Linked DNA regions of Homo sapiens: region 2 is linked to region 1. The links come from fine-mapping of genetic effects on gene expression. Tissue or cell type: tibial nerve. Region 1 holds a variant in brackets; the other region holds the start of a gene. All regions are shown on one strand. Distances are between the middles of the regions.

Region 1 (5,213 bases):
TCTGCGCTTGCACACCTGTGTGTATGTGTGTGTGTATGCCTGTGTTTGTGTGTCTGCATGTGTTTGTGTTTGTATCTGTGTATTTCTGTGTATGAGGGTGTCTGCATGTGTGATGTGTGTGGTGTGTGTGTGTGCCTGTGTGTGGTGTTCGTGTGTCTCTGTGTTTGCATATGTTTGTGTGTGTGTGTATGTGCGTCTGCATGTGTGGTGTGTGAGTTTGTATGTGTGCTAAGCCAGGTCCCAGGCCTCACTCTAGTGCTTGTTCACTTCCCTGTGGGTCTGATCCTCTTCCAGCTGCTCACAGGCAGCTGCCTGTCCTTGCCCACCATGTGGTACACTGGGGGTCTGCAGACCTCGCTTGCCTGTGCAGAGGTGGATCACCCCCAGGCCTCACTGGCTCAGGCGGATGTTCTCCGCTTCTCCTTTGTAGCTCTGAGGCCTGGGTCTGTCCTTGGTCCTTGCCCTACCCTTTCCCTCAGTGTGCCTTTACGAGACCCCTGCCCAGCCATCTCCTGGCTCCTGGGAGGTCACAAGCTGAGACACAGACCCTTGGGCCTGTGAGTGGGTGGAAACACTGCTCTCGTTGGAGCCCATCTCTTAGGGACCAGGCGACTTGATCCTCACTGGCCGAGGAGGACTTGCTCAGAGGGCCTGATTCGGCGTCCTGGGCTGGCATCCTGGGCTGGCACTTTGCTCCGCTGACCTTGCCTGTACGAGGCTGAGCATTCCAAGTGTCCTCAGGGTGGAGGGTGGAGGCCAAGAAGGCGACTCGTGGGGTGGTGGATGCGGGCCTTCACCAGGCTGGTGCTCAGATGGCCCCCAGTGGCCTGTGCTCCACGCCTGCTGGTAGCCCCTGGTGGCCTGTGCTCCACGCCTGCTGGTGGTTCCTGGTGGCCTGTGTGCCATGCCTGCTGGTGGCTTCCGGTAGCCCGTGCTCCATACCTGCTGGTGGCACCCCGTGGCCCGTGCTCTATGCCTGCTACCCAGCCCTGGTGGGCCTGTTGCGGCCCCTGAAGTTTGCACTTCGGCCAACAAGCTTCTGTTGTCGCAGGAAGAAACTCAGGGGGTGCTGCTCTTAGCCAGGGTTAAAAAGGGAAAGGGGCCGGCCAACTTTGCCTTTTTGTTGATGTTCTGTTTAATACTAAGGTCCTGGGGTGACATTTGTGCCCCTGGTGGCCTCTGAGGTCTGTGTGTGGCCAGGCACCGCCTCTCTCAGCTCCTGGGTTTTCTCCTGGTCTGGTCTGCCCTGAGTTTTTGGAGAAGCAGAAGCCCTGCTTAGCACAGCCTTAGAAGGCGTCCCTGGGCTTCAGCTCAGCCAAATGCCCTGCTCTCCCTCGGACTCTGCAGTCCTGGCTCACCTGACCACAAGCAGCCTGTGACCTGCTCTTTCTGCAGATGTGGGTGGGCTCCCGGGACAGACCTGCAGGGCCCAGCCTGGGAGTGTACAAGGCTAGGTGGCCAGCGGCCTGCAGAGGGCTCCAGCTCCTGTTCCCAGGAGGGAGAGGCCCACCTTCTGTCTTCTGAAAGGTCTGAGTCTGGGGCCCTGGTTCTGTGAGGACCGTCCTCACCCACTTCCCCACATCTGGGTCCTCATGGAGCCTCTGTCTGTGTCCTGGGATGCATCCCCACGCTGGGGCAGGGGCAGCAGGTGAGGCACGAGGGCCTGTCTGCAGGACATAGGTGGACGAGTGGGCCTGGCTGGGGGATCCTTTGTGAGCTCAGCTCCTGTGAGCCAGCACTGTCCCCATGGGCGACAACCTTTGAAGTCAGCAAGATGTGGCTGCTTGCCTCTCAGGTGGCCCACGATGGGCTTCCTGCAGAGGGCAGAGTGGACACAGGCCACAAGCACGTGGATATCTGGGAATTGCCCACTCTGCATTAGTGAGGGGTTGAGGTTGGTTTTTTGTTAATGAGAAGCTTGTGCTTGTTTTTGTCTCTGAAATAATGAAGTCATCTGCTAACATGGCCTTGGGATGCTGTAACTGTTTTGGTGTTACCTAGTCTCCTTCAGATTCTCAGTATCTTAT[G/A]CTCCTGGCTTTAGTGTGAGGAAAATATTTTCCATTTTTCTGTAGTTATTATTCTCCTCTTATTTTTCGTTTTGCCAATTTTCTGAATAATTTCTTAGGGGGCATTTAGAAAGCCCTAATTCTGGTACAATAAAATAAATGCCCAGTGTCGGCAAACAGTCTCTTCTGTGAGAACAGGATGGCCCCTAATGGAGCTCACTGTGCTGGAGCTTGCACAATCGAAGCCCTGGATCCTCGTTAGGTGCTGTCTCCTTGGCATATAGCCACAGCTAGTGGCAGAGCCAGGCTGAATGCCCTGAGACTTAGTTTCACCTGCCAAGTGGCCACTGTCGGGGTTGGTGGCACAGGCAGCAGGGGTTGGAGCAGCAATGCAGATGTAGGGTCGGTGCTAGCAGGGGATCTGGCCTGGATCCCTGTGGAGGGTCTACTTCCTTCAGCCTTGGAGGGGCAGGAGGGGCAGCCCAGTGGTCACCCCCCACAACCCTGGTGGGCGGGCCCTGGATGCAGCCCCTGCCTCTGGCCCAGGCACCTAGGTGGTGAGGGGGTGCTGAGGCCTTTGGTTCTCTGAGCTTCTTTTGGGCGGCAGAAGGACCCTTCCACCATGACCACCTCTCTTTTCTCTCAGTCTCTTGGGGTCTCCTGCACAAAGCAGTAAATGACTGACCAAGGCAGCTGTCCTGGCCAAGGTGAGGCCTTTCACCTGTGCCACCCAGTTCATCCTCCCAGCAGATGGCCCAGGGGTGGGTGGTGCTGGAAGGAGGAAGCCCACAAGGGGCCCCTCCTTGTGCAAGTGGATTGGCTGTGCCAGGGCAGAGCGTCCTAAAGTGGACACTGGCCCAGAGCCTGGAGCCACACAGGTGGGCACGTTATGGAGGGCGGGGCCAGGTGTGAGGACTGGATCCCCACCTGACCTTTGTGCCTCTGAGTCCTTGTGCTGGCCGTGCACGTTCTTGTGACCCCTGAGCCTCGGCCTTCCCCCCTGTAAAGTAGGCTTGTGCTGTCTGCCCCCAGGATCCAGGACCCCGTGCCAATATCCAGAGCTGAGGAGCCTGATTCTTGGTGGGGAGGTGTATTTTAAGGACATGTTGATTTCCATCCTTGTTGACTGACTGCAGCTCTAACTCCCATGTGGCCTTTGGACAGGGCAGTTCCCTCTGCACCCTTAGAGCCGAGGTCTGGAGAGCCCTTCAGCTCCTGTGGTGCACCAACCCCTGGACTATTAAAAGGATGTTGTTCATTGGGGACGTGCCCAACCACCTGGGGCATTTGGGGGCCTTTCCATGCACCAAGGTGGTCCAAGCTGTGGGTGCAGCTCCTAGCCATGGCTTGTCCTTCCTGTGCTGAGTCACTGGCTCACCATGGCTGTTGTCACCTTGTCCCTGCTATATCACAGGGAGGGGTGAGGCCTGGGTGGCCAGAGGGATGGAGTTTGAGGAGACTAGGACTTCCTTACATTCACAGGCACTGCTGGGGCCTCATGTGGGCTTCAGTTTGGGCTTGGGGTCTGGTCAAGGCCCAGCCAGCCTGTCCATACACCGAGCCTGAGGTCACCCTGAGGTGTGTTTCTTAGCTCGGTCGGCAGAATAACAGCCCCCGCTGTCACCCATGTCCTAATCCTGCAACTTTAAGTAGCATTGCAAGAGGGGAGGAAGGGAAGCTGTGGATGGAGTTGGGGCTGTTCAGCCAGCTGTGGATGGGGAGACTGTCCTGGATGACCCAGCAGCTGCAGCGTCATCACAGTGGTCCTTAGGAGGGGAGGAGGGTTGAGTCAGGGCAACGTCTGTGAGAGCTCGGCTGGCCATCACTGGCTTTGAACATGGAAGGGGCCGGGAGCCAGGGAGTGCAGATGGCCTCTAGGAACTGGAGGAGGTGGGAACAAATTCTCCCTAGAGCTTCCAGAGGGAGCTGCCCTTGCCCACACCTTGATTTTAGCCCGGTGAGACCCATTTGGACTTCTGACCTCCAGCCTGGAGAGTGAATCCTTCAGGGGGCTCCTGTCCAAAGGCCCTGTGAGGATCCTGGTGTCTCTAGCCCCTCACGCCAAGTCTTGTCCCCAGAACAGGCATGTTCCAGGGAGTGCTGGCCCTGCTAACTGAGCCCCGAGTCTGTCTGTCTGTTCTACTCTGAGTTTGGTGGTCTGACCTCTGACCTTCTGCCTGAGGGTCAGCACCAACCCATAAAGGCCTGACAGGCAGGTGTGTGTGATGGGCCATGTGTGTGCAAGGGCCCTGCTGGGATGGTGGCAGAATCAGGTCAGGTTGGTGTAGCCTGTCCTGTGCCTTCATCTGCTCCAGATGCTGCAGTGAGGGCACAGCCTGGAGCAGCCAGGGGCCAGGTGAGGGTGTGGACATGGGGCATGGGTGTGACTGTGTATGTGGGCATGGACATGGAGTGTGGTTGTGGCTGTGGATGTGGATTTGGGGTCTCACATGGATGTAGGGTCTGATGTGCAATGTGGATTCTGGGTCTAATTTCTGGGCTGCAAGAGCTCAACCAGCTCCAGGGCAATATATTATAACATGTATGCTTGAAGTGAGTAATGATGGTGCTGAAGGGACTGTCTTCAGCTCCCAGTTCATCTGGTCCCACAAAAGTCTTTGCATGTGGCTGATACTTGGTGTCACTGATGAGAACCTGAGGTATATGTGGCACTGTAGTGAGTGCACGTGACGTTTTCTAGCCCTGTCCTGCCCTCCTCTGTGCTGAGCTCTTCTTCACATGCCATAGTGCTATGCCCTGGTCCTGTTCCTGGCTTTGGGCCTTTGCTTCTATTGGGCAGACACCCTTATAAACTTCATGAAGGAAGAATATTAACACTGTGCATTTTAAAGTTTGTTTTGGTATTTTGGAGCATAATTTTCATTCATCAATGTTCTGAGTTTCCTTTCCAATTTTTCTTTGTTTCATTATGAAGATGCTCTCACTTTGCACCCTGAGAGCAGAAAAATATTCCCTCATGTTGTGCTTTTGATGGCTTTTCTTTTACACTTGACTCTTTGGAGTGTGTGGACTTGACTTTAGCTTGTATTCTAAGATAGAGTGAACTTTATATTTTCAAAAACAATTTGCCAAGATCTTTTTCTGGGCTTCATGCTCTGTTCCCAGAACTCAAGACTGTGGTGGCTGTGGAACAGAACACTCGTCTAGGGCCCAAGACCCTGGTGGCCTTGCAGGGTTAGTCTGATA
Region 2 (5,213 bases), 45 kb before region 1:
GGGAAGGAGGGAGGAGTGGGGAGGTGCATGTCCTGAAGGAGATGGAAAAAAGAAAGGGGAAGTCAGCTGGGCACAGTGGCTCACGCCTGAAATCCCAGCACTTTGTGAGGTGGAGGCGGGCGGATCACCTGAGGTCAGGAGTTTGAGACCAGCCTGACCAACATGGAGAAACCCCTTCTCTACTAAAAATACAAAATTAGCCAGCTGTGGTGGCACATGCCTGTAATCCCAGCTACTCGGGAGGCTGAGGCAGGAGAATCACTTGAACCCGGGAGGCGGAGGTTGCAGTGAGCCGAGATCGTGCCACTGCACTCCAGCCTGGGCAACAAGAGTGAAACTCCATTTCAAAAAAAAAAAAAAAAAAAGAAAAAGAAAAAACAAAAAGAAAGGGGAAGCCATAGGGAGAAGCCAAACAGAGGGAGCTTGTGGGCTTCTGATGACACTTGTTTTATCCCATAGATGGCAGGCAGCCATGGAAGGGCTTTGAACAAAAGGAATGTATCTGGTGGGCACAGGAGACCATCTGAAGGGCAGGGCTGGGAGGTGGGTGGGGTGGACACCCCGAACGACTAGCAGGGAGGCCGAGCTTCTCCAGACACATTCTGTGCGGTGGCTGCGGGGCAGGGAGCACAGGCCCAAGACTTGGAGACCAGCTGAGGGCTCCTCACTGGCTCCCACCCTCTGCCCTCTCACCAGGGAGCTGACATCCTCTGTCTGGCTGGATGTTTAATTGCTTAGCGCCTCAGTTTTCACTTCTGTGAAATGGCACTAATACCAATACCTAAAGGCACCAAAGGAGAGTCCTGAGTATGTAGTAATTGCCATCATGACCCAGGAATTTGCTAAGCGCTTACAAACATCTGGTTAGGTACTGGTAAAACCTCGTGAAGAACTGAGCCCAGGGCACTGTCCTGGTAAAAGCATTTGCTAAATGTTGGCTAACTACTGTCACTGTTTGTAAACAGGCTAATAGGAGTGTTAAGGGATGGGGGGATGCCCACATCAGGGCAGCCTCCCCTGCATCACAGCAGCCTCTAGAAGTTTCCAGCTTCATTTGGGCACTGCTCACCTGACTACTTTAGTACTGCTGTAAGGGTGAGGGAGAGTGTATCTATCAAGGAAGTGGGCACCACTCACCTGAAACCCGCCTTTTGGGCTCTCAACCTTCAGGCTGAGCATTCTATCTACATAATAGTAGACAATGGCTTAAGAGTTACTTCTTTCCCAGAACTTCAGTATGTAAAAAAAAAAAAAAAAAAAAAATTCCAGGCTTTCACCCAGGAGGAAGGGAACCAGTGACAACCGGAATTCAGGTAGGAAGGCCTATTGCAGGCCATCCTGGCCAGTCCAGAGGTGTGGGAGCTGGGGGTCTCCTGCTCTTTCCTCTCCCTCTATGGCCAGCTACTTCTCCCCCCGCCCCCTTCCCCAGTGCCCAGTGCTTTGGGCACTGCCCTGAGTCTGTATCCACGGGGTCACTTGTTGGGGGTGGGTGGCTGACTCTGAGGGTAGATTTTGGCTCAGTAGGAGGAAGGACCTTAATTGAGCCGCCTGCGGTGGAGCAAACGGCCCCTTGGCAGCTGCAGGTGGGCGGTGATGGTGAGGGGCTGAGGGGCTAAGGAGCCTTGTCATGGATGCTGCTAGGAGACTGAGCCAGGTTTCCTGTCCGGAGATTCTGGAATTCCGAGCAGGGGTGGCCCACATTTCCCAGCACGATGCGGATTTTGCTGAGGGAGGATGGGGAGAGAAAGAGGGTGAGGGAGGAAGGGCGGGCAGGGATGTGGCCCCTGCCCAGCGCGGATGCCCCAAGGATGCAGCGCTGGCGAGGCAGGGAAGTCCTCCTCTAGAACGCGTGCAAGTGACCCCTCAGAGCGCACCTCCGCTTCTCCTCCCCACCGTGGGGGCTCAGTTCCCTGGACACGGGGGCCAGGGTTCCCATACTCCTCGCCCCTTAGGTCACGGGCCTGGGGGGCTCAAATGCCAGGGAGCTCTCTCTTGACAGAGCTGACCAGCCCGGCCCCTTAGGTCACGGGCCTGGGGGGCTCAAATGCCAGGGAACAGAGCTGACCAGCCCGTGCCAGCGCACTCCCGGCCCGGGCTTCTGTCCTCTTCCTCTGGGGCTGAGCATCAGGGAAGTCCGCGGGATCCTGCGAGGGAGGCGGCAGTCCCCAGCCGAAAATGAGGGGAAAGAGGAAGTGGTGTCCCAACCAGAAACTCAGTGGGGAACGGAGGGAGGCAGCGCGGCCGAGGAGGAGGAACACCCCCACCGTGGTGGGGGTCAGAAGAAAGTTAGGGCCAAGTATTTGCTTGTCGGCCTTCTAGACTAGGAAGGCTCTCCTGCGGGCTCCACTCCCGCACCCCGCGTCTCTCCTTCTGCCTTGCCCGGGTTCCCCCAACTTATCTTATCCTCGGGGTCCCGCCCACCTTCTCCCCGGGGTCCCACCCCACTTTCAGTCTCAAGGCTCCCCCAGCTCACCTTCGCGCCCGCGGACCCCTGGGTCTACCTTCAGCCTTGGGGGCCCTTCTCGGCCTATCTTCCACCTTCGAGATCCCCCCACCCGCCTTCTCCCCCGGCAGGGTCCCCCCGGCCGTCTTCTCCCCCGGCAGGGTCCCCCAACCCACCTTCTCCCCCGCAGGGTTCCCCAGCCCGCCTTCCCGGCGGCGGGAGCGGCGGCCCAGGCCGGCGGGCGGAGGCGGCGCCACCCGGGGCGCTGACGTAGAGGCCGCTCGGCGGCCGGGGGTCCCTTCGGTGGGGCCGCGGCTCCCCGCCCGCCGCCCCCGCGCGTCCATTCCCTTTTGTGTCCCGCGCGCGGCCCGTCCCCCGCGCACACTAGCGCCCTGAGCCCCGCGGGCCGGCGGGCGGCTCCCGGCGCGGCCCCTCCAGCCAGCGCGCCCGGCATTGTGTGGACGCGCCTGGCCGGGAGCGCGCGCGGGGGCTGTCGTGCGCCCCCGTCCCCGTCCCCTCCCGGCCGCGGCGCCGCCTGCGCCCCGCCGCCCCCGCCGCCCCCGCGCGGCCCGGCCCCCGGCCCGGCCCGGACCGACCCGGGCAGCGCAGCGGCGGGGCCGAGCGGCGGCGCGGCGCGGCAACATGGCGACGGTGCCCGTGTACTGCGTCTGCCGGCTCCCCTACGACGTTACCCGCTTCATGATCGAGTGCGACGCCTGCAAGGACTGGTTCCACGGCAGGTGAGCGCGCGGCGGCTGCTCGGCTCGGCCCGGCCCGGCCCGGCCACCTTGCCCGACCGAGCCCCGCGCCCCCGGCTGCGCGCCCGCAGGCCCGGCTCGGGGACGGGCCGCCGCCGCCGCCGCCGCATTCCGGGCGCCCCGGTCGGGGCTGGGCCGTGCCGGGCCGCGCGCCCTTTTGTGCCCAGGGCGGGGGCGCCAAGCACGGGGCCCGCGCTGGGCGCCCCTGGCCGCCGCGCACAAAGCGAGGCCCGCGGGCCGGGAGGTGGGCTCGGGGCTCGGGGCGCGGGGAAGTTGGGGCTCCAGGCCCGGGCCGGGCCGCCTGTCAGCTGGGTCGCGGCGGCCGCAGAGGCCGGGCATCCGGAGGGAGGCCGAGGCCCGGAGCCCCCGCCGCCTCCCCCCTGCGAAGTTGCAGGAACTTTCCCCGCGCGGGCTCGGGGTTGGCCGGGCCGGGAGAAGCGGGCGCGCAGCCCGGCGCGGGTCCCGGGAGAGGCGCGAGTGGCGGGCTCCGACTCCGGCAGGGCTGGGGAGTCCGTGGGGGCTCCGGCGAGGTGGCAGCCGGCGCGCCCACCCTCCGCCGTGGCCGGCGAGCTCCCTTGGACCTTGTCCCCGAGGGCAGGACCCCTCCCGGACCCCCGCGGAGCAGCTAGACCCGGCAGGCCTGCAGGTCCGCGGGCAGGAGTGCGGTGACAGAATAGTGTCTGTGAGTTGGGTAAGGGGGGTTTGTTGTGGCTTTGCCACCTCCTCCCTGGCCTTCAGTTTTCCCCGTTTCTCTCCTCTCCGTTCCCGGCAGGAACGCCGGTTTTGACATGATCTTATGCTCCCTAAGGAAGATGGGGAGGGGGGAAGGAGGTAACGCTTGGAGACACTGAAAACCCCCGCCCTCTTGGCCCTTGCCGATGGCCATGACCTGGCCCCATGCCTAGGGCAGGTCCCTTCCCACCAAGAAGTAAATGGAGGAGGAGGAAGAGGAGGTGACAGTGTTGCCCAAACTGCTCCAACAGGTTCTCTTGCATCTGACTTTGCCTGTGGGATGTGTTTGGACCCGGGGCTGGCCAGGGCTGTATGCCCTCTGGGGCTCCAGTCCCAAACCACCGGCAGCAAGCAGCCGGGGGAAAGAGAGGGGTGTGTGGTGGTGGGTGGTCCGGGATTCTCCTTCCAGAGAGGAGATCCTCCTGCAGGTTCTAAGACTGGGTCTTCAAGACTGGTCAGTGGTGCTTAAGAGTGGGCTGTGGCCCCAAGTCCAGTCCTGCCAGTTTACATGTGGGGACCTGGGTGGCTGGGATGTGACAGGGCCTGCTATGTCTGTCAGCCCCAGTCCTGAGTCCTACCTCCCTGCTGTTAGAAGGGCCTGGGACTCTGTGGGGTGGGGATGCCCACGGAAATCTGGGCTGCCTTCCTGGGTATGCCCAGGGCTGTGGAAGCCCCTTAGAGCAAGGGAGACTGAGTGTGAACACCGGGCTCTGCCCAGAACAGGGCTGACATGCACACCCTCAACTGGCAGCCGTTGAGAAGTTCATGGCCGGGCCAAAGTGAGTGAGAGCCTCTAAGGCTCCTCATATCCAGGGATGCTGAGCTGCTGGCCCTGAAAAGCCCTGAAAGTGGTGGGGCCTCTGCCTTCTCCCCCATCTCCACCGGAGCCCTGACCTGGCGAGCGCAGTCACTCTGCTACAGAACCTTCTGGGCACCTGTGTCAGCTCCTGGCTGCTGCCCACACTCGGGGCCCAGAGTAGGGAGAGTGAGAGAACGCGAGAAGACCTTTGTCTCGCTGCTTAGGGGACCCTCTGGGAAGGGAAGGCTAGTTCTGAACTAGACTTCGAGGCCAAGGGAAAAACTCCAGGAATGAGGGGCAGGCAGGCGACAGGGGCTGAGAGCTGGCCTGAGAGCTGGTTGGTGTCATTTGCTGTATTGGCCCATGCAAAAAATCCCCAAAAGGGGGATGTCTGGGGAGGCTCTAGCTCCTTTTTTTCTTATTTGAGGTCTCTGATTGAATCCAATACAGGCAGTTGATCAGCACAGATTTATTCTCACCT

Evidence for each region.
Region 2: PHF2 starts here. The variant in region 1 is fine-mapped to the expression of PHF2 in tibial nerve (GTEx, PIP 0.98).

The regions. Positions count from the first base shown.
Region 1 is chr9:93,618,715-93,623,927 of GRCh38, forward strand. All of the region lies in intron 1 of PHF2 (PHD finger protein 2), which reads left to right. Among named protein-coding and RNA genes, the nearest start is that of MIR548AU, 26 kb to the left of the region's middle. The variant G/A (reference allele first, on the strand shown) is at 2,028.
Region 2 is chr9:93,573,689-93,578,901 of GRCh38, forward strand. It overlaps PHF2 (PHD finger protein 2), which reads left to right and starts at 2,896. Exons shown (of 22, transcript NM_005392.4): 1 at 2,896-3,183. The coding sequence starts at 3,086. RefSeq lists enhancers at 1,203-1,798, 1,799-2,393, 2,075-2,354, 4,536-4,685 and silencers at 2,455-2,514, 2,625-2,924, 3,515-3,674.